7 linked regions of the Homo sapiens genome follow. The protein of the gene in region 1 purifies or fractionates together with the protein of each later gene. This does not show direct contact. Each region holds a gene or a part of one and is shown in the gene's direction. Other genes may lie near its edges. The genes, in order: HDAC2, MIDEAS, ING1, CDYL, MIER1, MIER2 and ARID4B.

What was found.
Region 2: the proteins of HDAC2 (region 1) and MIDEAS purify together in Homo sapiens (affinity purification with mass spectrometry; 5 studies listed by BioGRID and IntAct, with this or other methods). This does not show direct contact.
Region 3: the proteins of HDAC2 (region 1) and ING1 purify together in Homo sapiens (affinity purification with mass spectrometry; 5 studies listed by BioGRID and IntAct, with this or other methods). This does not show direct contact.
Region 4: the proteins of HDAC2 (region 1) and CDYL purify together in Homo sapiens (affinity purification with mass spectrometry; 6 studies listed by BioGRID and IntAct, with this or other methods). This does not show direct contact.
Region 5: the proteins of HDAC2 (region 1) and MIER1 purify together in Homo sapiens (co-immunoprecipitation; 6 studies listed by BioGRID and IntAct, with this or other methods). This does not show direct contact.
Region 6: the proteins of HDAC2 (region 1) and MIER2 purify together in Homo sapiens (affinity purification with mass spectrometry; 5 studies listed by BioGRID and IntAct, with this or other methods). This does not show direct contact.
Region 7: the proteins of HDAC2 (region 1) and ARID4B purify together in Homo sapiens (affinity purification with mass spectrometry; 4 studies listed by BioGRID and IntAct, with this or other methods). This does not show direct contact.

Annotation. Positions count from the first base shown.
Region 1 is NC_000006.12:113,961,149-113,964,648, reverse strand, and holds part of HDAC2 (histone deacetylase 2), read left to right. Parts: intron 1-2,254; exon of another isoform or gene 2,255-2,282; intron 2,283-3,500. UniProt on the Homo sapiens protein: Histone deacetylase that catalyzes the deacetylation of lysine residues on the N-terminal part of the core histones (H2A, H2B, H3 and H4).
Region 2 is NC_000014.9:73,736,304-73,739,803, reverse strand, and holds part of MIDEAS (mitotic deacetylase-associated SANT domain protein), read left to right. Parts: coding exon 1-1,244; intron 1,245-2,471; exon of another isoform or gene 2,472-2,506; coding exon 2,507-2,806; intron 2,807-3,500.
Region 3 is NC_000013.11:110,712,559-110,716,499, forward strand, and holds the start of ING1 (inhibitor of growth protein 1), read left to right. Parts: upstream 1-1,141; 5' UTR 1,142-1,591; coding exon 1,592-1,727; intron 1,728-2,453; exon of another isoform or gene 2,454-2,885; coding exon of another isoform or gene 2,886-3,450; intron 3,451-3,941. UniProt on the Homo sapiens protein: Cooperates with p53/TP53 in the negative regulatory pathway of cell growth by modulating p53-dependent transcriptional activation. Implicated as a tumor suppressor gene.
Region 4 is NC_000006.12:4,947,404-4,950,903, forward strand, and holds part of CDYL (chromodomain Y-like protein), read left to right. Parts: intron 1-3,500.
Region 5 is NC_000001.11:66,986,555-66,989,119, forward strand, and holds the end of MIER1 (mesoderm induction early response protein 1), read left to right. Parts: 3' UTR 1-2,065; downstream 2,066-2,565. UniProt on the Homo sapiens protein: Transcriptional repressor regulating the expression of a number of genes including SP1 target genes. Probably functions through recruitment of HDAC1 a histone deacetylase involved in chromatin silencing.
Region 6 is NC_000019.10:334,797-338,296, reverse strand, and holds part of MIER2 (mesoderm induction early response protein 2), read left to right. Parts: intron 1-2,123; coding exon 2,124-2,214; intron 2,215-3,500. UniProt on the Homo sapiens protein: Transcriptional repressor.
Region 7 is NC_000001.11:235,318,180-235,321,679, reverse strand, and holds part of ARID4B (AT-rich interactive domain-containing protein 4B), read left to right. Parts: intron 1-3,500. UniProt on the Homo sapiens protein: Acts as a transcriptional repressor. May function in the assembly and/or enzymatic activity of the Sin3A corepressor complex or in mediating interactions between the complex and other regulatory complexes.

The DNA of each region.
Region 1 (3,500 bases):
TGAAAAAGATACAGCATAGACAGACGACTGGTCCCAGGACTTAACTCCCGAGAGAAGAGAATTTAGGGCAGAACTATTGTTCACTGATGAACCCAAACCCTTAGAACAGTACCTGCTTGGCACATGGTAGGCTCTTGATTTATTAAATGAATGGCTGAACTGAAAACCCTTGATGTTTAAAGGTTGGTGGAGGAGTGGCCTTGGGGTACAAGTAAAATCCCAAGAAAATGGTATTATGGAAGCCAAGGCTCCGAATGTCTCAAGGAGGAATAACCTCCTTGAAATATGTATTAAAGATGTGTTAATATGTATAAAAAATGGATAGTGGGCTAAGTAGTCTGGAAGATGAAAATAATAAACTTTTTTCTTTTCTCTTGTTTTTTTTTTCCTGAGTCTCTTTTTGCAGTCAACTTATCTTTGTGGCTAAAGGTACATTTCACAGTTCTGAAATCCAAAATGACCTGAAAATTGAAAAAAATTTTGGTAACTCATTTGGAATCAAAATCTTAACCTGAATCAATGTGAGGCTATTTATGATCTTTATTCCTCTGTGAATACCGTGAATATTCACACTTTTTTGCTGTAGAAATATTAATGTTTGATTATATCATGCCACCCAAACTCTAGGCTATTACATAATATATGGCAGGTGTACCATATTATCTCTACAAAATCTGAAAAAGTGTAAAATTTGAAACATATCTAATTTGAAGGAATATGGATAAGAGATTGTGGACCTTAGTAGACACTTCCATTCTGTTAGTTTCTTGAAGAGTGAGCAATTTGTAAAATTTTGCAGATAAATAATTCTTTACAGTAATTTCTTTGCATTGACAATTAAAGTTTGTTGTGTTCAAGGAACCACCTTGAGCTGATTTTTCTGAATGTTTATTTCATTGGTAAAGTATTTTTATGTACAGGTTGAATATCCTTTATCTGAATTCTTGGGACCAGAAGTATTTCAGATTTGGGGAGGTTTTGCAATATTTGTAATTATTTACCAGTTAGCATCCCTAATTCGAAAATCAAAAATTTGACATGCTCCAGTTAGCATTTCCTTGACTATTAAGTTGGTGCTCAAAACAGTTCAGATTTTGGAACATTTTGGATATCAAATTTTTGGATTAGGGATAATCTGTATTTTGATGCAAATCAGTAACATTTAAAATGCCCAAATTATTAATACATTACTGACCATTTAAATGATGAATAAAAATTGTAGGGTCTTAAAACTTCTTAGCCTTTTTATACTTTATGAAAAAGTGGGCTGGGCACAGTGGCTCACATCTGTAATCCCAGCACTTTGGGAGGCTGAGGCGGGCAGATCATCTGAGGTCAGGAGTTTGAGACAAGCCTGGCAAATATGGAGATACCCCGTCACTACTAAAAATACAAAAATTAGCCGGGTATGGTGGTGGGCGCTTGTAATCCCAGCTACTTGGGAGGCTGAGGCAGGAGAATTGCTTGAACCCCAGAGGTGGAGGTTGCAGTGAGCCAAGATCACATCACCGCACTCCAGCCTGGGTGACAAGAGCGAAACTCCATCTCAAAAAGAAAACAAAGTGGATGCCTACAAAGTAGCCATCTAGAGAATTGTGAGATACAGAATTAGTGGGAAAAAGTTGGAGATGGTTATTTTATAACGCCTTTATATTTTAGAAGAATTCTTTTTTTTTTTTTTTTTTGATACAGAGTCTCGCTCTGTCACCCAGGCTGGAGTGCAGTGGCACGATCTCGGCTCACTGCAACCTCCGCCTCCTGGGTTCAAGTGATTCTCCTGCCTCAGCCTCCTGAGCAGCTGGGACTACAGGCGCATGCCACCACACCTGGCTTTTTTTTTTGTATTTTTAGTAGAGACGGGGTTTCACAATGTTTGTCAGGAAGGTCTCGATCTCTTGACTTCGTGATCTGCCCGCCTCGGCCTCCCGAAGTACTGGGATTACGGGTGTGAGCCTCCACGCCCAGCTAGAAGAATTCTTGGTAAACCAAAAAATTATCTGTAGCTTGGCTGCCCTGTATACATGTATCATTTAGGTTCTTTGTGTATTCTTTGTGGGACTGGGGTCCCTAAATTTCAACAGAGAAACTTGTTGAAAGCTATGCGTATTCGTATACGATTTGAGGACCCTATTAGTAAAAAGTAAATTACTCTGATATATTAGGTACAGTTTCTTGTGTTCATTTTCTTTAAATTAACCAAGACCCTAAGCCTTTATTTAAAATATTTATATTTCATATTATGTCTTTTTTTCAGCCTTCACCCTGCCATTTCTAGTGAATCTGTAAGTGTCCTTGACATTCCCTGTTGTTATTACTTAAGAACATTAGCTGTGAGCTGCCCTGCCAGAGTTTGAATCTAGCTCCTCCACTTGCTGGCTATGTGACTTAGGCAATAATACCTGACTTGTCTGTTTCTCATCCTTCTTTACTATTATACAATAGGAATAATGTAATAATACCCACATCATAAGGTTATTGACAAGATTAAAAGATATGTGAAGTACTTAATAGTGCCTTCTAGTAAGCACTCAACAAGTGTTAATTACTGCTTTTTTTTTTTTTCAAACACACTTGCTCAGAAATTGCTACTGTAGTCTCCAATTATTGGGGCCTGGGGCTTTTCACTGGATTTTCAGTGTGCATCAAATAACTAGAGTATTTGATGTTATGATGTGGTAGATGTTAGAGACATTTCATTTGGGTAATTGTTACACAGAGGCAGATAGATGGAAGTTATTGTTTAGTTTGTGTCTTTTCTGTTTTAGGTGATATTGGAAATTATTATGGGCAGGGTCATCCCACGAAACCTCATAGAATCTGCATTTCTAGTGAAGACTAGACTTTCATTATTTTTACTTTAATGATTTCTTTAGTAGTGATAACTAAGAAATGCCTTCCCTTGTATTAATTTAATTACATGATGCTTTGTAATAACACTAGTGGGTTTTCCATATCTAAGAAATGATGAGACCAGGCTGCTTTCAAGGAACTATATATCCCTTGTATTGTCACCATGTAAGGTAGAGCTTTATGGTAGATTCTTTCTTAATAGGTAGTTTATTTTCTGCAATCATAGCCTCTTAATTATAATTGCAGAGGAATGTTGCAAAGGGCCATGGCCCTGCTTTGCTAAACTCTATATTGTTTCTTAGCCTTGTTGGCACCTGCATTAAAAAGGTGGCTTTCCCTTTAAAAGACTTTGTATATGAATTGTTTTCAGAAGAGAGCTGTGCTGAAAATGAAGTTAACTAAAATTAGAGGTGTGATACCAACAAAATCAAGTATTTATGTTATTAGAAGCATGGATTTTGTAAAAGCTGATTGTTTATCCCGTACTGTTATCAAATATGTAGGAGAGAGGACAAAAAAGTTTTTGGGGTTGTTTCCATTAAACAAACAAAAGGTGTATTTAGGGAGGACTTTGAAAGATTTAGTGGATAAATTGCATTTTTTATTCTAGCTTTTATTGTAATATATAAACCCGTGTTGAAATGATAGAC
Region 2 (3,500 bases), on another chromosome or scaffold:
GCCTGGCCCTGCTGAACTCTGTGGTATATGGGCCTGAGCGGACCTCAGCAGCCATGCTGTCCCAGCAGGTGGCCTCAGTAAAGTGGCCCAACTCTGTGATGGCTCCAGGGCGGGGCCCGGAGCGTGGAGGAGGTGGGGGTGTCAGTGACAGCAGCTGGCAGCAGCAGCCAGGCCAGCCTCCACCCCATTCAACATGGAACTGCCACAGTCTGTCCCTCTACAGTGCAACCAAGGGGAGCCCGCATCCTGGAGTGGGAGTCCCGACTTACTATAACCACCCTGAGGCACTGAAGCGGGAGAAAGCGGGGGGCCCACAGCTGGACCGCTATGTGCGACCAATGATGCCACAGAAGGTGCAGCTGGAGGTAGGGCGGCCCCAGGCACCCCTGAATTCTTTCCACGCAGCCAAGAAACCCCCAAACCAGTCACTGCCCCTGCAACCCTTCCAGCTGGCATTCGGCCACCAGGTGAACCGGCAGGTCTTCCGGCAGGGCCCACCGCCCCCAAACCCGGTGGCTGCCTTCCCTCCACAGAAGCAGCAGCAGCAGCAGCAACCACAGCAGCAGCAGCAGCAGCAGCAGGCAGCCCTACCCCAGATGCCGCTCTTTGAGAACTTCTATTCCATGCCGCAGCAACCCTCGCAGCAACCCCAGGACTTTGGCCTGCAGCCAGCTGGGCCACTGGGACAGTCCCACCTGGCTCACCACAGCATGGCACCCTACCCCTTCCCCCCCAACCCAGATATGAACCCAGAACTGCGCAAGGCCCTTCTGCAGGACTCAGCCCCGCAGCCAGCGCTACCTCAGGTCCAGATCCCCTTCCCCCGCCGCTCCCGCCGCCTCTCTAAGGAGGGTATCCTGCCTCCCAGCGCCCTGGATGGGGCTGGCACCCAGCCTGGGCAGGAGGCCACTGGCAACCTGTTCCTACATCACTGGCCCCTGCAGCAGCCGCCACCTGGCTCCCTGGGGCAGCCCCATCCTGAAGCTCTGGGATTCCCGCTGGAGCTGAGGGAGTCGCAGCTACTGCCTGATGGGGAGAGACTAGCACCCAATGGCCGGGAGCGAGAGGCTCCTGCCATGGGCAGCGAGGAGGGCATGAGGGCAGTGAGCACAGGGGACTGTGGGCAGGTGCTACGGGGCGGAGTGATCCAGAGCACGCGACGGAGGCGCCGGGCATCCCAGGAGGCCAATTTGCTGACCCTGGCCCAGAAGGCTGTGGAGCTGGCCTCACTGCAGAATGCAAAGGTGAGAGTGGCATGCAGTGGAGCCACACCTGGCAGAGGGCATCAGGCTGATAGGTGGGCGGCTGCAGGATTTGCTTCTTGCCTAGGGAAAGCCAGACTTTGCCCTAGCCAGCTGCCTGTGGGAAAACAGTACAAAGACCACCCTTCACCTTGCCACAGGGTTCTTGCTTACTTTCTTTTGCAGAAATATTTTTTGAATAATTAGATACTATTTCAGATACAGATAGATACAGATCACCGGGTTCAAGTGATTCTCCAGCCTCAGCCTCCCCGAGTAGCTGGGATTACAGGCGCCTGCCACCATGCCTGGCTAATTTTTGTATTTTTAGTAGAGACAGGGTTTTACCATGTTGGTCAGGCTGGTCTCGAACTCCTGACCTCGTGATCTGCCTGCCTCAGCCCCCCAAAGTGCTAGGATTACAGGCGTGAGCCACCGTGTCCAGCCAGAAGCACTTTCTATAGAAGAGAACAGTGTGAGGCTAGGCGCAGTGGCTTATGCCTATAATCCCAGCACTTTGGGAGGCCAAGGTGGGTGGATCACTTGAGGTCAGGAGTTGGGAGACCAGCCTGGCCAACACAGCAAAACCCTATCTCTACCAAAAAACACAAAAATTAGCCAGGTGTGGTACTGCACGCCTGTAATCCCAGCTACTGGGGAGGCTGAGGTGGGAGAATCATTAGAACCTGGGAGGCAGAGGTTGCAGTGAACCAAGATTGTGCCACTGCACTACAACCTGGGTGACAGAGTGAGACCCCCTGTCTCCAAAAAAAAAAAAAAAAAAAAAAAGTGGTCGGAGAAAAGGTAGTCAGGGAAAAAGGTCAAGTTGTGAGACCACTGGGAGCCACTGTGGGTGTTTGAGTCCCGTGACTAAATGGGAATGAGGGTCCTAGATCAAATCAGAATTTATCTTTTATTTGTTTATTTATTTATTATTGAGACAGGGTCTCACTCTGTCACCCAGGCTGGAGTGCAGTGGTTCGATCTCGGCTCACCGCAGCCTTAACTTCCTGGGCTCAGGCAATCCTCCCACCTCTGCCTCCCAAGTAGCTGGGACCACAGGAGTTTGCCACCATGCCCAGCTAATTTTGTTTTATTTTCTGTAGAGACGAGGTGTCACTATGTTGCCCAGGCTGGTCTTGAACTTGTGGCGTCAAGTGATCCTTTAATCTTGTCCTCCCAAAGTGCAGGAATTATAGGCGTGAGCCACTGCGCCTGGCTATGACTTACCTTTTAAATTGCACTTCTGTTCCCATCTTGTCCAGGATGGCAGTGGTTCTGAAGAGAAGCGGAAAAGTGTATTGGCCTCAACTACCAAGTGTGGGGTGGAGTTTTCTGAGCCTTCCTTAGCCACCAAGCGAGCACGAGAAGACAGTGGGATGGTACCCCTCATCATCCCAGTGTCTGTGCCTGTGCGAACTGTGGACCCAACTGAGGCAGCCCAGGCTGGAGGTCTTGATGAGGACGGGAAGGGTCCTGAACAGAACCCTGCTGAGCACAAGCCATCAGTCATCGTCACCCGCAGGCGGTCCACCCGAATCCCCGGGACAGATGCTCAAGCTCAGGTATGAGAGGCGCCCCTTCTAAACACCTCCAGCGCGTGAGTGCTCAGGGGGCCCAGGACCCTATGGGGAAAGGAGAACATGGCAATGTAGGAAGGTATCAGGGAACCTGTGGAGATACTATTTTTATTTTCCAAACCAAACTTCTGGACAGACGTCCAGAAGGGGCATTTGGAGATGTCCCCCTCCTAATGGGGGATGAGACAGTTTTATACTTGAAATTGAAACTGCCTAGAATTGAATTCTAGGTTGTGTACATCTCTTTTTCCAGATCAGCAAATTCTGATTTGGCCCGTGCTGGGTGCTGGGAATGAGAGGTGTTTGCTTGTACTGTCACTACTGAGATCTTGACATCTTTTTTTTTTTTTCTGAGGCAGAGTCTTGCTCTGTCACCCAGGCTGGAGTGTAGTGGCGCAATCTCGGCTCACTGCAACCTCCGCCTCCTGGGTTCACACCATTCTCCTGCCTCAGCCTCCCGAGTAGCTGGGACTATAGGCGCCCACCACCGCGCCCAGCTAATTTTTTGTATTTTTAGTAGAGATGGGGTTTCACCATGTTAGCCAGGATGGTCTCGATCTCCTGACCTCGTGATCCGCCCACCTCAGCCTCCTAGAGTTTTGGGATTACAGGTGTGAGCCACCGCGCCTGGCCGACATCTCCTTCTAAGATTGAGGTTTTGCCTACTTTTTCTTTAGGT
Region 3 (3,941 bases), on another chromosome or scaffold:
GCCTAGGCAACGGGCTCGCGTGGCGTCCAGGCTTCTCAGAAAGCCCAAAATCCGGGAGCTTTGGGAGGGTAGAGGGGCGACGCGGGGGAGGGCGGTCCGGGGAGCTGAATGGCCTCAGGACGCCGGCCGACCGGGTGTCTGCATACTGTGGGCGGCCTTTCCAAGTGTGGGGAGCGGCCTCCGAGAACGGTGTCCATGACACAGGGCGGGAAGAGATAAGGCCTAGGGAAGGCGCCCCTCGGGCCTATCCACCTCTTCTGGGGCTCGGCACTAGGAAGCAGCTTCCCTCTCAGGCCCCTTTGTCTCCAAGCCGTTCCAAACTGAGTACCGGGAGACGACACAAAGGGAGGGCGGTGACGGATGGCGCAGGCGCGGGAGCCGCCTAGGCTGCTGGGAGTGGTGGTCCGGCCGCGGAATGGGTAGGTCTCCCGCGCACTCTGCGGCCGCAGCTCAAAGGACACCGAGAGGGTGCCAGTGCGCATGCGCCGCCACTTCCGCCCGTGCCCGGCCCTCCCCTTCCTTCCGCCTCCCGGAGGACTTGGGTTTCTAGTAGTAAGAGTCCGGGGGGCATTACTCACGGTCTCCCCGCCTCCTCTTCATCGTGATTGGGCTGTCAAAGTGATGTTGGCAAGTAGATTGGCTACTGCGGTTGCCAGTTCTGTTTCGGGCCCTACTTATACTGCTCTGTGGGGCGGGGACGAAGAGTCAGGGGCTGAGGAGCGAGTTGCGGTAGTTGCTGTGTACCATGGTCTCGGAGGTTTCTGTCCCGCGGCCCGTTAGGTCCTGGTCGGGTTTTCAGCGAAGCAGGCCGCTCCCCTGCGTTTCCCAGCGGGCGTGCTGTGCCGCCCAACAGGCTCTGCCTCCAAGTGCCAAAAACTCCTAGTAAAGTTTGCGCCTCGCCCGCCGTCCACACCCCAGCGGCCCTGACGCTGTCCCCTCCGCGACCCTCGCCTCTGGAAAAAGTGACAGGCAAGGCCACGCCCCCGCGAGGGCCGGCCTGGAGCCCGCAGCCCCCAGGGCCTGGGACGGTGAGGGGCGTGAATGCGGCGGGGGGCGGGGCCGTTGCCGGGGGAGGGGGCCGGGGCGCATGCGCGCTGCGCAGCGGGGCTGAATGTTTCCCAAGTGTTTGAAACTGGTATTTGGGTTTTCCACGTTGGACAAGTGCGGCTCGGCGGCCAGCGGAGCGCGCCCCTTCCCGCTGCCCGCTCCGCTCCTCTCTTCTACCCAGCCCAGTGGGCGAGTGGGCAGCGGCGGCCGCGGCGCTGGGCCCTCTCCCGCCGGTGTGTGCGCGCTCGTACGCGCGGCCCCCGGCGCCAGCCCCGCCGCCTGAGAGGGGGCCTGCGCCGCCGGCCGGGGCGTGCGCCCGGGAGCCACCGCCACCGCGGCCCGCGCCCTCAGGCGCTGGGGTCCCCGCGGACCCGGAGGCGGCGGACGGGCTCGGCAGATGTAGCCGCCGGGCCGAAGCAGGAGCCGGCGGGGGGGCGCCGGGAGAGCGAGGGCTTTGCATTTTGCAGTGCTATTTTTTGAGGGGGGCGGGGGGTGGAGGAAGCGGAAAGCCGCGCCGAGTCGCCGGGGACCTCCGGGGTGAACCATGTTGAGTCCTGCCAACGGGGAGCAGCTCCACCTGGTGAACTATGTGGAGGACTACCTGGACTCCATCGAGTCCCTGCCTTTCGACTTGCAGAGAAATGTCTCGCTGATGCGGGAGATCGACGCGAAATACCAAGGTACGGCCGGGTGATGGATGGGCGGGGGCGGCCGCCTCCTTCCCGGCGGGTCCGGGCGCGCCGCGGAGCCGGGCCGGTCCTGCCGTGGACCGGAGGAAGCGGCCGGCTCCGCAGCGGCGGCCCTCGGCAGGGGCAGGAACAAAAGGTCTGGAGCGCCTTTGATTCGCCAAGGTCCTTGTGTGCAAAGCCCGGGACACGGAGGAGGAAGGAGGCGCGAGAGGTCTCGCTGCAAGGCTGCGCGACCAAAGCGCTCTTTGTAGTGAAGTGATGAGGCGGGTGCTGCGGGGGAGGGGGCGGCGGGTCCAAGCCGCGTCCTCTAGGAGGGGGTGCAGATTACGGCGCGAGATGGAGGGATGTGCCGGCGCCTGGGGCTATAGGGCGCCGAGACGGGGCTGCAGGAGGAGGGCGGCTGTGGGCCGGGGTTCCCGCGGACCCGGTGCCTCGGTCCCGGGCAACGCCGTTCCTCTGGCCCTTCTTCGTCGCCCCCCACTCAGTCCCGAATCTGAGTGTTACATAAAGTACCGGGTAGTACTCCGCTCGGGGTAGGTCGGCCGCCCCCGCCCAGCCCCCTCCGGCCCTCACTTGGAGCTGGACACCGAGTAGGGGCCGACTGCGAGGGGCGACGCCGCCGGTTGTAGTTTGCGGAGGACGAGGGCTTTTCTCTGTGTGCCGTAGGGAAGGGAAGGGAAGGGGAGGAGCGGAGGCGGGGAAGGCGCCCATCTGCGCTGCGCTCGGGGGGGCGCGGGCAGATCGCTGGCTTGGAGAGGACTGTGGCAGGTGAGAGGACCTGTGCGTCGTTCTCTGCAGACCTGGCCGCCCCGGGTGTCAGAGAGAGGTGGCGAGTTCGTGTCCGCCGGGAATTGTTGGCTGTTGGGGAAACTTTCCTGCGAGGTCAGTCAAGGCTTTGGGGGCTCTGTTTTGAATGTGGATCACCACTCGGAGTTTACTAATGTTTACAAGGCTGCGCAGTAGGGAAACGGAAGAGTTGGGTGGGGGCAAAAAAAAAAATTGACCGCTATCCCCGAAAGTACTAGACGCCTCTGCCGGGAAGGCGCCCCTGCGCGTTCTATCCGAGACGTAGCTTCGCAGCGAATTTTATAGGAACTTCATTAGCATATTATGGAACGTCCCGCCTCAGCCCCCCAGTAGTTGGCTGTGATGTCCTTCGTGGAATGTCCTTATCATTCCCCTGCGGAACGATTGGTCGCTGAGGCGGATGAAGGCGGGCCTAGCGCAATAACTGGTATGGGTCTGTGTTTCCGCTGTCTTCTTTTTTCTTTTTCGGGGAGGAGCGGGGTGGAGGGTGGACGAGTTGATTTGAACGTCTTCGGGTCGCTCGGCCTCCAGCCTTGGATTGGTTCTTCTCGCTGCTGGGGCGGGCCGTGCTCTTCCGCCCTGCGGTGTGGTTGGTTCTCCTCCTGGCCTCCGCCCTCCAAATCGGCGATTCCCATAGGCGGCGGCTCTCGGGGTGCGGGGCGAGTCTCCCGCTGGCCTCCTCCCCATTGGCTGGAGGCCTGGCGGGTGTCGCCCCGGCCCCTCTCCCCGCTCAGCCCGGCCACTTTCGGGCGCGGATTTATAGCAGTAGCAGTGATCCCGGGCCTGTGGGCTCGGGGCCGGGGCTGCAGTTCGGACCGCCTCCCGCGACCCGCGGGGCCGGCTCGGAGACAGTTTCAGGCCGCATCTCTGCTGACCCGAGGGTGGGGCCGCGCGTGGCCGTGGAAACGTGAGTGACTGGGGCTGCGTCCACGAGGGGGACCCTCGGCGCAGAAACTTTTCTGGAAGGTGCTGTCCTCGGGCCGGACGGGCCCCGTGGGGTGACCCTGGGGCTCCGGACGGAAGGAAGGCAGGGGCTGAGACCACTTTGATCGTTCGACGATAGAAAAAAGTAGCGCGGGGCGGGGTGCAGGGTTCCAGCTGTCCAGACAGCAAAGTTCATGGAGCCACTTTGTCCTCCTGTCGTTGCTGGGGAGAGCCTGGCTTGCTGCTTGCTTCATGTTCACCTAGGGTGATGAACTTTTTGGCTTCAGGAAAGATCACAGTCCTGCCCCCCCGGGAGTACTGGAGCGGCGCAGCTGGGAGCGCCGAGAAGCGAGCGAATCTGTCGCAAGGGTCACAGCTCCTTGGACTTCGGTGTAAATGCTGAGCTCTGCCGCGTAGTTCTGAAAGACTTCCACAGACCTACTCTGTAGGAAGTCAAACGTCTTTTGCTTAGTA
Region 4 (3,500 bases), about 110 Mb from region 1:
CTGATTAACCTGGGTGGAGCTTGTCCACTCTTGCTGACAAGTCCAGGGGCTAAGGCCAAGTCTCAGCCCTCTCTGCCTCTTGCTCCCGGCTGCCCCTCTGCTTGCACCCATGTCCCTGCCCCTCACCTGTGAGAGTGTTAGCACGTGGACGGCTGCCTGTGCCAGGTACTGTGGCTTCTCCACCTGGCCTGTTGGGGGGTGGTCCCTCATTGCCAGCTGGGGAGCCGTGCAGTTTCTAAACCTCTCTCTTCACCCTCGGTCTGTCCACTCCCCTCGTCACAAGGTGGTTTCTCTGGAAGCTAAGATAGATTTGGGAAGCAGGGTCTGGTAGATTAGGTGCCAGCGTCCATGGAAGGGCAGAAAGGAAGCAGGATTGGGCAGAGCTGACTGACAGGGAGCTCTGGAACCACGTGGCCTCACGGCGGTTCCCGGTGCCCCACTGCAGTTGGCCGTGGGGTTGGCGGCCCTGGGAAGAGCGGTCCATGGGGGAGGCCCTGAGCTCTCTGTTGCCTGCTGACAGCACTTCCCACAGCAGGCAGTTTGCTGGGGTGGGGACGTGGGTGGCTTATCCAAGTCATTTGCTTTGTCCTTTACACCGTACTGCACGCACCTGACACCACCAGACTCCCATGGTAGAGTCATTATCAGTAAAATCAGTTCATCGTAGTGATTACTGTAAACGAGACTGTGTCCTGCCAGTTAACCCTGTCCCGGCAGGAAAGAATCCTCATCCTCTGGAACATCCCGTGAATCTCATTTTGAGTTATTTATCCAAAGGAGGTTGAGATCTGAGGTTCTGACCCCTCCCACTGTATGATCTATGTAGATGTGTGGTGTCGGTGCAGATGTGGGGCAAATACTAAACCACCTTGATGTTCAGACACATTTTGGCCAAAGACATTTTGGAAGTGGAGCCCTGGAGCTGAATGCTGCTCAGGGGTAGAGGTGTCAGAGTTCACCATTCCCAGAAAGGGCCATGAGGCTTGAAGTCATCACAGGACGAATGCCTGCCCTCTGGTCAGCCGTGTTTCTCCCTACTCTACAAGCCTTGGCAGATCTTTACTTTACGCTTCCCCTGGAGATGTACTGGTGCCTCTTGAGCTGCTGCTTTCAACTGGGCAGTTTTCACCCCCGACCTCACCCCTGGGGAACAATGTCTGGAGACAACTTGGTTGTCACACATGAGGAGATGGCCGTTAGCAGAGGCTGGGGTACTGCTCGGCACCCTCCATAGCCCACGGGACAGCCCTGCTTAGCACCCTGCATGTAGCCCCCACAGGACAGCCCCCACACCAAACAACAGTCCAGCCCAGAATGTCCCTAGTGTCCAGGGGGAGAAACCCTGCTCTAACTCAAGAGCGAAGAGCCTGCATTTCACTCGGCGTGAATTCTACACTTTCTGAGCAGAGTATCTGACGAAGCCTCTCTACAGAAAGTGAATAAACGTTGTTCAGATGACTTCGACAACTCTTGTTGAAAGTGACTATGCAGATGATGTAAATGATGTCGTTCCTTTCATGAGCCTTTGGTGTACTTGAGCTTTCAGCAGCCTGAGGCAAGACTGGACAAGTGTGGTTTTCCCCACTTTGCATGTGCAGAGCTCTGCCAGGAGGATAAGCTAAAGGAATCACATTATCAAGATAAAAAGAATATGCAAATAGTGCAGGCTGTGTGGCCTCTCCTTTCTTACAGCAGGCCCTCCGCTGTAGGCGAGGGCTACGTAAATCAGCCAAGGAGTCTCTTCCAGTTTAGCCTTCCTGGTGCCCAGTAGACATTCATGGAGTGCATGGAGGATGGCACGGTCTGACGCCCACAGGCTCCCACGTGGAAATCTTGCACCTCTCAGGGGCCTGCTGGGGTGTGAAGCTGGAGAATGCCCAGCGAGTACCTGAGGGCCTTACCCCACGCTCACACCTTGAGAGCCCTCTCTTGGGGACTTCAGAGACTGGCCTGAGGGAGCAGGTGGTAAAACCTCTGCCACAGCAGTCCCCATAAGGCTGAAGATTCCTGGATCCCCTCTGCTCATACTGGGCCAGTTTCCTCGCCACCCGTCCTGCTGTACTCTGGCCAAACTAAAAAGACATCTCTATTTAACTTTCCTCGGCATTTCCCATCTCTCTGGATGGTTCCAGGATAACTTTCTTTTAATAGTTGGACAACTTTGACCACATCATGGGGTGATGTAGGTTGTCTACAGGGAGTCCCTGTGCACTCAGCCATCTCAGAGCAACGTGCTAGCTGGTCAGGTTCCCACCGCCTGCATCTGTGTGAATCGGTTATTTGGGTAGAAGTTTGAAACCTCTCATTTTGAAACTACTGAAAATAGTGTGTTTATATAAGAATATGCTCACGCAAATTGCGTGTATTTAATCCTATAATACATATCTTACCAAGGGAGATTTGTTGTTGTTGTTTTCTTGGGTGACTGTCGTTCAAACCAACTCACTGGCCGTGTTTAAGTGAAAAAGCTTTAACAACCTAGCGTGAGCCCTGTCATTTTTGCTCTTGAGTAAATTGAGAAATGCCCTTGCTTGTCCTGCACATCCAACCACCTGGAATGGAGAACACCGAAGGTAGGGAAAGGATCTCCAGGGATGAGCAGGCCTGGAGCCGGCGGGGCTGTGGAGGAAGACCGGCCGCAATGAGTGAGTGCTGAGCAGAGAGAAGGGCCGTTCTCGGCTGGTATCAGGCCCAAGAGAGTCAACAAAGGGGGGACGAAAGGGAGACAGGGAAGAGAACAGTGGTGGGGCTGTAAGTTGACCTCCAGGTGGCAGAAAATAAAGTTGGAAGAATTGACTGGGACAGACAGCCAGGGCCCTGCAGGAAGGGCGGGAGAGGAAGCCTGCGGACACCTGCCCTTTGTGATTGAACCGCAGACACCAGGCCTGGCGGGGTCGCTTGCCTCCGCTGCCCAAGCTAAGGCTCCACTAAGCTGGTCCTGAGAACATACTTCATGCTCAACTTCAGGGATGTGGCTGTAGTGTCCTCACTCTATGCTGAGAATGAAAGAAGCACAGTCTATGAAAGGAAAACCCCGACAGCACAGAGCACTTCGTGCGGCAGCAGCACACCGGGAGTCCCACTCCCTTTCCTGCTGCGTTTGGATCTGCCGTGACAAGGACTATCAGAACCACTCACAGTAAGGTCGGGTCGCGTTTCTAAATCCACTGTTTATGGACCGTCTTTTCACTGAGAAGAAGCTCGTCAGTTCAGGGGTTTCTAGAACTTCTCCAGACTCTTCAAAAACTCATGACTTTCTCCAAGTTGGTAATCCCAGCACTTTGGGAGGCCCAGGCGGGCGGATCACGAGGTCAGGAGATCGAGACCATCCTGGCTAACACAGTGAAACCCCGTCTCTACCAAAAAATACAAAAAAAAATTAGCCGGGCGTGGTGGCGGGCGCCTGTAGTCCCAGCTACTCACGAGGCTGAGGCAGGAGAATGGTGTGAGCCTGGGAGGCGGAGCTTGCAGTGAGCCGATATTGCACCACTGCACTCCAG
Region 5 (2,565 bases), on another chromosome or scaffold:
CCTTACCCCCATGAAGTATTACTGTTAACATATGTTCGGACTGCTTCCCTTCACCAATGTGAACAACTTTTTTTCCCAAACAGTGTTAAAAGCCACTTTGCAACACTTGACTTCATCTTAATGTACATTCACTGTTGTTACATACATATCTAAGTAAATCAAAGTTTTGGGTGGAAGTGTTGAGAAGTATGAGTTTTTTGTTGTTTTTGTTTTACTTAAAACTTTTAATTTATCCAGAATGGCAGTAGCTTTAGCAAGCAGATGGTCACAATCTGTTTTCTAAATCATTTTTTATTAAATGAATCCAAAGTATCCTAGCTCTTTGTCAAAGATGGTCTGTAGAAATGTTTTTAAAGATTAGGGATGCTGTACTTTTTGAATTGTTGCAGTGTTGGAGATGCCATTTTCACCTTTTTAAAAAGATGCATTTTATTTGCAGGTTTGTGAAGTTCTTGCAAACTCTTACTACAGAAATGTTTTAAATACATTCTCAGGCATGTTTGCAAAAATATGGCACATGTATACATTTTAGGAAATGTTACTTTTGTTAATCTTTAAAAAATACACCTAATGAAAGACATTCCACTATTATGCGTAATGCTCAGCTTTTTGTAAAGAAATATTTAATTGTATTTTGTGTTTATACAGGTATTTCACACAATAATTTGTTCTTAATGCAGCCACTATAACTTGATAAGTCATTGCACTATTTAAAAAGTTTTAGTAATATCATGAATTTAATTTGCTTAAGATTTAGTACATTTCAGAACTTTTGAACTTTTGACAAATTGCATTGGAAAAAGAAGTCTGTTAATAGTGATTTAGTCTCCCCGCCTCATTCCCACCCCCAACAAAGCACTATCATTTTCATTTGGAATGGGTATTTTCTGTTTCATGATGTATTTTCAAATAGAGTTCAGGATCTGCAATTCAGTTCAACACAAGTTTGTTGAGCTTTAAAATGTATTTGAAGTAATATTTAAATAGGCATTTAAAATTTCAAATTAGATGTTAAATTTATGCATAGTAATTTTGCACTGTAAAATAATTCCCTTCTCCCATTCCTTGTCTGCCATTCTGAATATGCTTATTAAAATATTTTTTTAAACATATTTGCCTACATAATACTGTGTGAATATTTTCATTAGATTAATTCACTAAGATTTTATTAGAGATTGTTTGAATGATGCATGTTATTGACAAGGCAAATATATATATATACACAGTCTGTTTCTTCTATTCCTAGACATATTGCACTACTTTTTCAGTGGTTCTTGGTCCCCTTTACCACATCTTGGGTGATGTATTTTTGTCTTCTTCCCCTTTGCCACAAGAGATCCTTTCAGTCCCTAGACCTCCATTCACTCTGTTTCTCTTCTGCTGGATTATATAATTTAAAAATAATGTGTTCCCGTATTTTGTAGTGGAGTTCATATCACATTATGTTTTGCAAAATAAAACTTGTTTTGTCACAATATTTTCTTTGCTATCGATGGATAATTAGGAGTGGGCACTTGGAATAACTGAGGGCTGGTGAATATAATAGGCAATATTTACATGGGGTGTGTAACTAAATACCAAATCAGATAGTAAGGTTTTCCCAACTATAATCCATATTCATGAAAAATGCCAGTGTGGAAAACCATGTAACATACAGAAGAACAGGAGTTTCCAAATTTTAACCTTTTATTCTAAAAATGACTCTCTTCTCTCAAAATGACTTTTTCTGTATCACATAATTCTACTGATACAACTTTTTACCGTAAAAATTAACTCTCTTCTTTAATATCAAGTTCATCCTTTGCAGAATCTTAAAGGGTTTTCCACACATCCATCCACCCACTTACAGACTGATTTCATGTATCTGAATATCTGATTAACCTTTCTTTTCTAATACCAGTTTTCCATAAACTCTTGTCATGTACCCTTAGTATTGTGCTGATCTTTTGCCAACTATACGGACGTGGAGTTTTTCCTTTTCAGAATATGATTATTTTCAATTTGTCTTTAGTTAGTATAAAGAATTATAGAATGTATAATGTAATTAAAATGTCATTTTGCTTGCTCTTGAGTAAGAAGTAATTTGAACACACTTTTAAAGGCTACTTATTCTGTGAAGAATATTGAAGAATTGCCATGTAAACGAGATGAGATGGATTCTAATTGTCCAAATTGATGGTGACAGTTTCACATTTAAATGTCAATGATGACAAGCTTTCATTATGTTTCCATATACTCTAATATCCAGCAAATATTTCGGCCTATACTTGTACCAGGTACTATGCTTGCTTGGCTTGTGGCTTCAGAGATGCGGCATGCCCTGTTCTTCAAGAAGGCAGCAAAGTGTTAATGGTAGAAAAGTAAAGTGTATTCTGAGTACAGAGACAGCAAAAAGAGGAATAGGCACGATCTCAAGAAAATGAGTTTACCTTCCTCTTTGCCATGTAAGTCTAGCTAAATATTTTTCTTTTGTCAAACTTCGTATTTGCTGGAAATTAACCAACATGAAATGCATGATTTTCCCTAAGAAATTTTGTCTTTTAAAAAAAAAATTTCCTGCAGAGC
Region 6 (3,500 bases), on another chromosome or scaffold:
GTACTGCAACCTTGCTGAACTCACTGTAGTTTGAATAGTTTTTTAGATCATGTCACCAGCACCAGCACAGAGATAGTTTTACTTCTTCCTTACCAATCTTTTTTTTTTTTTTTTTTTTTTTTTTTTGAGATGGAGTCTTGCTGTATTGCCAGGCTGGAGTGCAGTGGCACGATCTCGGCTCACTGCAACCTCTGCCTCCTGGGTTCAAGCGATCCTCCTGCCTCAGCCTCCCGAGTAACTGGGACTACAGGTGCCCGCCACCACACCCAGCTAATTTTTACATTTTTAGTAGAGACAGGGTTTCACCTTGTTGGCCAGGATGATCTCCATCTGCTGACCTCGTGATCTGCCCACCTCGGCCTCCCAAAGTGCTGGGATTACAGGCGTGAGCCACTGCGCCCAGCCTTTTTTTTTTTTTTTTTTTTTGTGAGATGGAGTCTTGCTCTGTTGCCCAGGCTGGAGTGCAGTGGCACGATCTCGGCTCACTGCAGCCTCCGCCTCCCTGGTTCAAGCAATTCTCCTGCCTCAGCCTCCTGAGTAGCTGGGATTACAGGCACATGCCACAATGCCTGGCTAATTTTTTTGTATTTTTGGTAGAGACAGGGTTTCACCATGTTGGCCAGGCTAGTCTTGAACTCCTGACCTCAAGGGATCCGCCTGCCTGAGCCTCCCAAAGTGCTGGGATTACAGGCGTGAGCCACCGTGCCCGGCTTCCTTACCGATCTTGATTCTTTTTATTTGATGCTTTTACGCTGACTACACCATCCAGCCCTCCATTTAGCATGAGAGGTGAGAGTACACGTTGTGGTGCTCATGGTGTGAAGGAGAAAGCAGCCTTTCCCCATTGAGGGCAATGATAAGTATGGGTTTTTCCAAGAAGGAAGCTCCCTTCTGTTCTGAGTTTGTTGGGTATTTTTCCTTATGAAAGTATGTTGGATTTTGTTGGATTGGGTATGTTGAGATGATCCTGTGTTTTGTTTTTTTATTTTATTGATGTGATGTATTATATTAATTGACTTTTGGATATTAAATCGACCTTGCATCCCTGCGGTAAATCTTACTTGGTCGTGGCTTATAATCATCTTTATGTGTTGCTGGATTCAGTTTGCTAGTATTTTGTTGAGGGTTTTGTGTTTATGTACATGAGAGATATCGTGGCTTGCGGTAGCTCACACCCATAATGCCAGCACTTTGGGAGGCCGAGGCGGGCGGATCACTTGAGGTCAAGAGTTTGAGACCAGCCTGGGCAACATGGTGAAACCCTCATCTCTAGTAAAAATACAGAAATTAGCTGGGCGTGGTGGTGCGCACCTGTAGTCCTAGCTACTCGGGAGGCTAAGGCAGGAGAATCACTTGAACCTGGGTGGCAGAGGTTGCAGTGAGCCAAGATTGCGCCACTGCACTCCAGCCTGGGCGACAGAGCAAGGCTCTGTCTCAAAAAAAAAGAGAGATATTGAACATTGTGATAATGGTAACTTATAATGGTTTTGTTTGCCTTTTTATAAAAAAAAATTGTAATTGACAAACCATAAAATATGCCCATTTTAAAGTTTATAATTCATTGATTTTTAGTGTATTCACGACCATGCAACCATCACCTCTATCTGATTCTAAAACATTCTGTCATCCCCAAAAGAAGCCCTGTCCCCGTTAGCAGTCACTCTCCCACTGTCTCTCTCCCTGGCTCCTGGCCCCCACGAGCCCCCATTCTGTCTGTGGACTGGCCTGTTCTGGATGTTTGGTATCAGTGGACCCTACGCTGTGGCCGTTGGTGTCTGGCTTCCCTCCCAGTGCATGCTGTTGTTGAGCTTCATCCAGGTTGCAGCATGGGTCAGGACTGTAGGCCTGTGTGTGGGCAGTTTTCAGTGTCACATGATGCATGTCCTGCCCTGGGCGAGAACGCCTCCACCCTGTGAGCGGTCCTTGGTGGGAGGCGGGGCGAGTGGCGGCCACATGCGTGTGCTGCTCCTAGTGCCCCCCAGCCCTCAGAGGCGGAGACAAAGCCCCTTCCCTGGTCACTGGGGACTGGGCTCTGACCAGCGCTTGCTCTTGGCTGCCACACTGTGATGTCCAGCAGCAGGTTTTGGGCCGGCCGAGCTAACCCTGCCTCTCTTCCTTCGCAGGCCTCCTCGCTGGGGAGGCAGAGTCCTCGCGTGGTCTCCTGCCTCGAGCACAGCCTGTGCCCAGGGGAGCCGGGCTTGCAGACAACAGCAGGTACCTTCCTCCCTCCTTCCCCTGCTCAGGTCCGCCAAGGCCTTTGTGGCTGTGAGAGACAGAATGCCTGCTGGGCCTGGCTGAGCTGTGGACCGGCACACTGGCTTCCAGAGTCCAGGGTGTCCCAGCTCCCACCCGTTCAGATGGAGCTGTGGGGCAGAGTGGTCAGGACTCCCGTCTTCCTGTTCTTTAGCAGGGGCAGGGAGCCCAGGCGACCCAAGACCATCCTCAGAGCCCAGCACCCCCAGCAGAGGACCCGGGCACACGCCTGCACCGAGCTGAGGGCTGCCTCATCTTGCCAGGGTGTTGGGAAGGGGTGGCTTGCTGAGGGAGCCGGGGCTGAGAAGGTGGAGGGCGGCGAGACAGGCAGCACCCCGGGTTCCCTGCACCTCCCTGCGCTGCTGCTTGCCCAGTGGGCATCAAGGTCCCATGCCCGCCTGCCAGCCACCTGCGTTGGGCCTGCGGGGAGGAGCTGACGCTGTAGGGCAAGGGTCTCTATGACTGTTCTTCCCCTGGCTGGGCTCCTTCTGCCAGGTGTAGGGCTGCGTCTCTTTCCGTATCAAACTAGTCACCACCCGAGTCCCCAGAGAAGGCGGTGCCATCCCTGTTTTCCCTCACGTGGCTCCTCCAAGGGTGCGGTGGCCACTGAGGGTCCGGGCGCACCCATTCAGCTCCAGGTCATTCCCTCACTCTAACGAGGTGCCTGCCGCTGGGGGTCCTCTGTGCCCTGCAGCTGCATGTTCTGTGCATGGGCTGTGTGTGGTGCACACCTGTGTGCCCAGCCCTACAGGCTGTGTGGCTGCCCTAGAGGCCTCGTGCCCTGGACTCCCAGGCCCTCAGGCCCCCAGCCTTGGCCTACACTGCTCTCTGTCTGGATTGATTGAGCCCTAGCTATTTCCTTTGTTTGTTTAAAAATTTGACCAATTGGAGAGTAAACATGCAGAGGAATGGTGACACATCCCAGTTCTTTCGGGGAAACCCTGGATCTGATGACAGCCGTCAACTGTTGGGCCATGTACATCGCATGTCTTCTTCATGTGGCCCTGCAGACGGAGCTTAAGGGACTGGTGTTGTCGAGCCCCCATTGGTTTGTCCCTGCATGCTCCTTGATGCTGTACTGACCTGTGCAGGTGAGGGTTCAGCGTCACCCCCGTTTCAGGAGTCATGGAGTCCGGTGTGAACCCACCTCGACTGAGTCCTGCTGCTCCTTCTACCCTAACGAGATGGGTGTTGGTCTCTTTCTAGTCCACTTGCTCCCCAAATCCTCGCAGGCTTCTCTGTGTTCA
Region 7 (3,500 bases), on another chromosome or scaffold:
AAAAAATACAAAAAATAGAAATTAGCCAGGCTTGGTAGCGGGCGCCTGTAGGACGCTGAGGCAGGAGAATGGTGCGAACCTGGGAGGCGGAGCTTGCAGTGAGCCGAGATCACGCCACTGCACTCCAGCCTGGGCGACAGAGCAAGAGTCTGTCTTAAAAGAAGTAGAATTCAGGACCTAGTAACTCATCCTGGGGTAGGAAGAAGATGGAGGTTTTTTTCTTAGGAAATTAGATAGATGTTACTGTCATTTGAAGCATGCTGTCATTGGACCTGCTAGTTAAGATGTAAGAGTAAGTAGGTAGGATGAAGTCAGAGGCTTGGTTAATCTGGTGTGAATGTTAACCTCATATCTATGATATTTGAAGGGATTTAAGATCCATAACATGGCAAATTTTGTGCTATAAATTTGTGGTCCTTTAGATGAATAGGTAATCTTGTAAAATACTAACATGTTTTCTGTCCAAATTGCTAAATCTTTGTTTATTGTAATTAAAAAAAATACTAGGTGAGTACCTATGTCACTGAAGAATGTTTTTGCCAAGTCAGCCAGTGAATTCAGTCATTGAACACATTGTGTACTTTCCTTGTACCGGACATTGTTCTGGGTTTTGAGGATGCAGCAGTGAATAGAACAAGAGTTCTTACCCTCGTGGAGTTTACTTTCTACTATGGTGGACACACGTTAAGAAAAAAAATAATGCTAAGTGCTTTGAAGAGAAATGATACGGAATCAGAATAAGAGGTTAGAGTGACAGAGGGTGGGTTACTTTAGATTAGGTGATAATGGAGGGCCTTTTCGAGATGACATTTAAGTGTGCTGTGAAACAAGTGATAGAGTGAGCCATTCAGGTTTCTGGGGGAGGAGCATTCCCTGCAGAAAACAAGTGCAAATACCCTGAGATGGAGTGTGCTTGGCATGTTTGAGTGTGATACATTTAAGGAACATTAAGGCCATCAGGGCTGGAGTGGTAGGAGAGGAGGTCAGAGAGGGTCACAAAGGGCCAGTACAATTGTAGGGCCTTATAGGACATGGTAAGGACTTGAGTAAAATCTGAATGTGTTAGGAACCCTTTGAAGGGTGTTGAGTGAAGTGATGTGATAAACATTTTCAAAAATGTTTGACTGCTGGGTAGTGAACACATCATGGGTTCGAACAGATCATGGGAACACAAGAGTGGAAGTAGGGAGATCAGTCAGAAGGCTGTCAAGCTAGTCCTGGGGAGAGATGGTGGTGAGGAGAAATAGTAGTATTGGGAATATATTTGAAGATGGGGATGATTGGATTTCAATGGATTGGGTGTGAAGGGAAAATTCTACTTACTGCAACTTGCACATGTATGTCCTCCCACAAGTGCCCTCCCTCCTTTTCTTTTGAGACGGAGCCTCTCTCTGTTGCCTAGGCTGGAGTGCAGTGATGTGATCTCGGCTCACTGCAGCCTCTGTCTCCCGAGTTTAAGTAATTCTCTTGCCCCAGACTCCCCTGTAGCTGGGATTACAGGCACCTGCCACCACGCCTGGCTAATTTTTTTTGTATTTTTTGTTTTTTTTTTTTTAGACGGAGTTTCGCTCGTTACCCAGGTTGGAGTGCAATGGCACGATCTCGGCTCACTGCAACCTCTGCCTCCCAGGTTCAAGCGATTCTCCTGCCTCAGCCTCCCAAGTAGCTGGGACTACAGGCATGTGCCACCATGTCTGGCTAATTTTTGTATTTTTAGTAGAGACGGGGTTTCACCATGTTGGCCAGGCTGGTCTCAAACTCCTGACCTTGTTATCCACCTGCCTCGGCCTCCCAGAGTGCTGGGATTACAGGTGTGAGTCACCTCGCCCGGCCTTTTTTTTTGTGTTTTTAGTAGCAATGGGGTTTCACCATGTTGGCCAGGATGGTTCTGAACTCCTGACCTTAAGTGATCCGCCCGCCTTGGCCTCCCAAAGTGTGAGCCACTGCACCTGGCCGTCCTCCCTTTTTTTAAAAAAGTCTTTTTGCTGTGATTAGTTGGTAGATGGGATTCTTGGAACTGAGTATGACCATGAAGGCATTGTCAAATCTTAGCCTTCTCAGTGAGCAGTGAACATTGAGTTGAGCAATCCTTTCACTTGTTTTTTTAATTAAAAAAAATGAGATATAATTCACATACCATAAAATTCACCCTTTTATTTTATTTTTTTTGAGACATGGCCACAGTCTGTTGCCCAGGCAGGAGTGTAGTGGCGCAATCACAGCTCACTGCAGCCTTGATCTTCAGTGGGCTCATGTGATCCTGCTTCAACCTCCCAGGTAGCTGGGACCAGAGGTGCACGGCACCATGCCCAGCTAACTTTTAAATTTTCTGTGGAGGTCTCACTGTGTTGCCCAGGCTGGTCTTGAACTCCTGGGCTCAAATGATCCTCCCATCTTGGCCTACCAAAGTGTTGGGATTACAGGCATGAGCCACCGCGCCTCACCAAATTCACCTTTTTAAAGTGTTCATAAATTTCTAGTATTTTCACAAGTTTGTGCATCCATCACTACTATCTTTTGAAAACTTTTTTGTTAATTTCTTTTGTTTGTTTTTTTAGAGATGAGGTCTTGCTGTGTTACCTAGGCTGGCCTTGAACTCTTGTGGTCAAGTGATCTTTCCCCCTCAACTTCCTGAGTAGCTGAGACTTCAGGCACGTTACTTATCCCTAGCTATCTGTCACTGCTATTTAACTCCAGAACATTTCCAAATTCCCAACAAGAAACTTCTTATCCATTAGCAGTCATTCACTGTTCTCCCTTTCTTTTATCCCTCCAGTAACTAATCTAAATTTTTTTTTTGAGAAGAGTTTTGATTCTGTCACCCAGGCTGGAGTGCAGTGGCTCGACCATGGCTCACTGCAGCATCGACCTCCTGGGTTCAAGCGATCTTCCTGCCTCCAGCTCCCAAGTAGATGGGATTACAGGTGTGCGCCACCATGCCCAGCAAATTTTGGAATTTTTTGTAGTAGTGAAGTCTCACTATGTTCCCTAGCCTGGTCTGGAACTCCTGAGCTCAAGTGATCCTCTTGCATTGGCCCCCAAAGTGCTGGGATTACAAGATTCAGACACTGAGCTTAGCATTTACTTTCTGTCTATAAGGATTTGCGTATTCTGGGCATTTTCTGTTAACGGAATCCTGTAATACATATGTGGCCTTTTTGTGTCTGATTTCTTTTACTTCCCATAAGTGAAAGAAGTAGCAAGTGTTGACCAGGCGCGATGGCTCACGCCTGTAATCCCAGCACTTTGGGAAGCCGATGTGGGTGGATCACGATGTCAGGAGTTCAAGACCAGCCTGGCCAAGATGGTGAAACCCCATCTGTACTAAATAAAAAAATTAGCCGGGTGTGGTGGTGGGCGCCTGTAATCCCAGCTACTCAGGAGGCTGAGGCAGAGAATTGCTTGAACCTGGGAGGCAAAGGTTGCAGTGAGCTGCGATGGCGCCACTGCACTCCAGCCTAGGTGTCAGATCAAGACTCCGTCTCAAAAAAAAAAAAAAA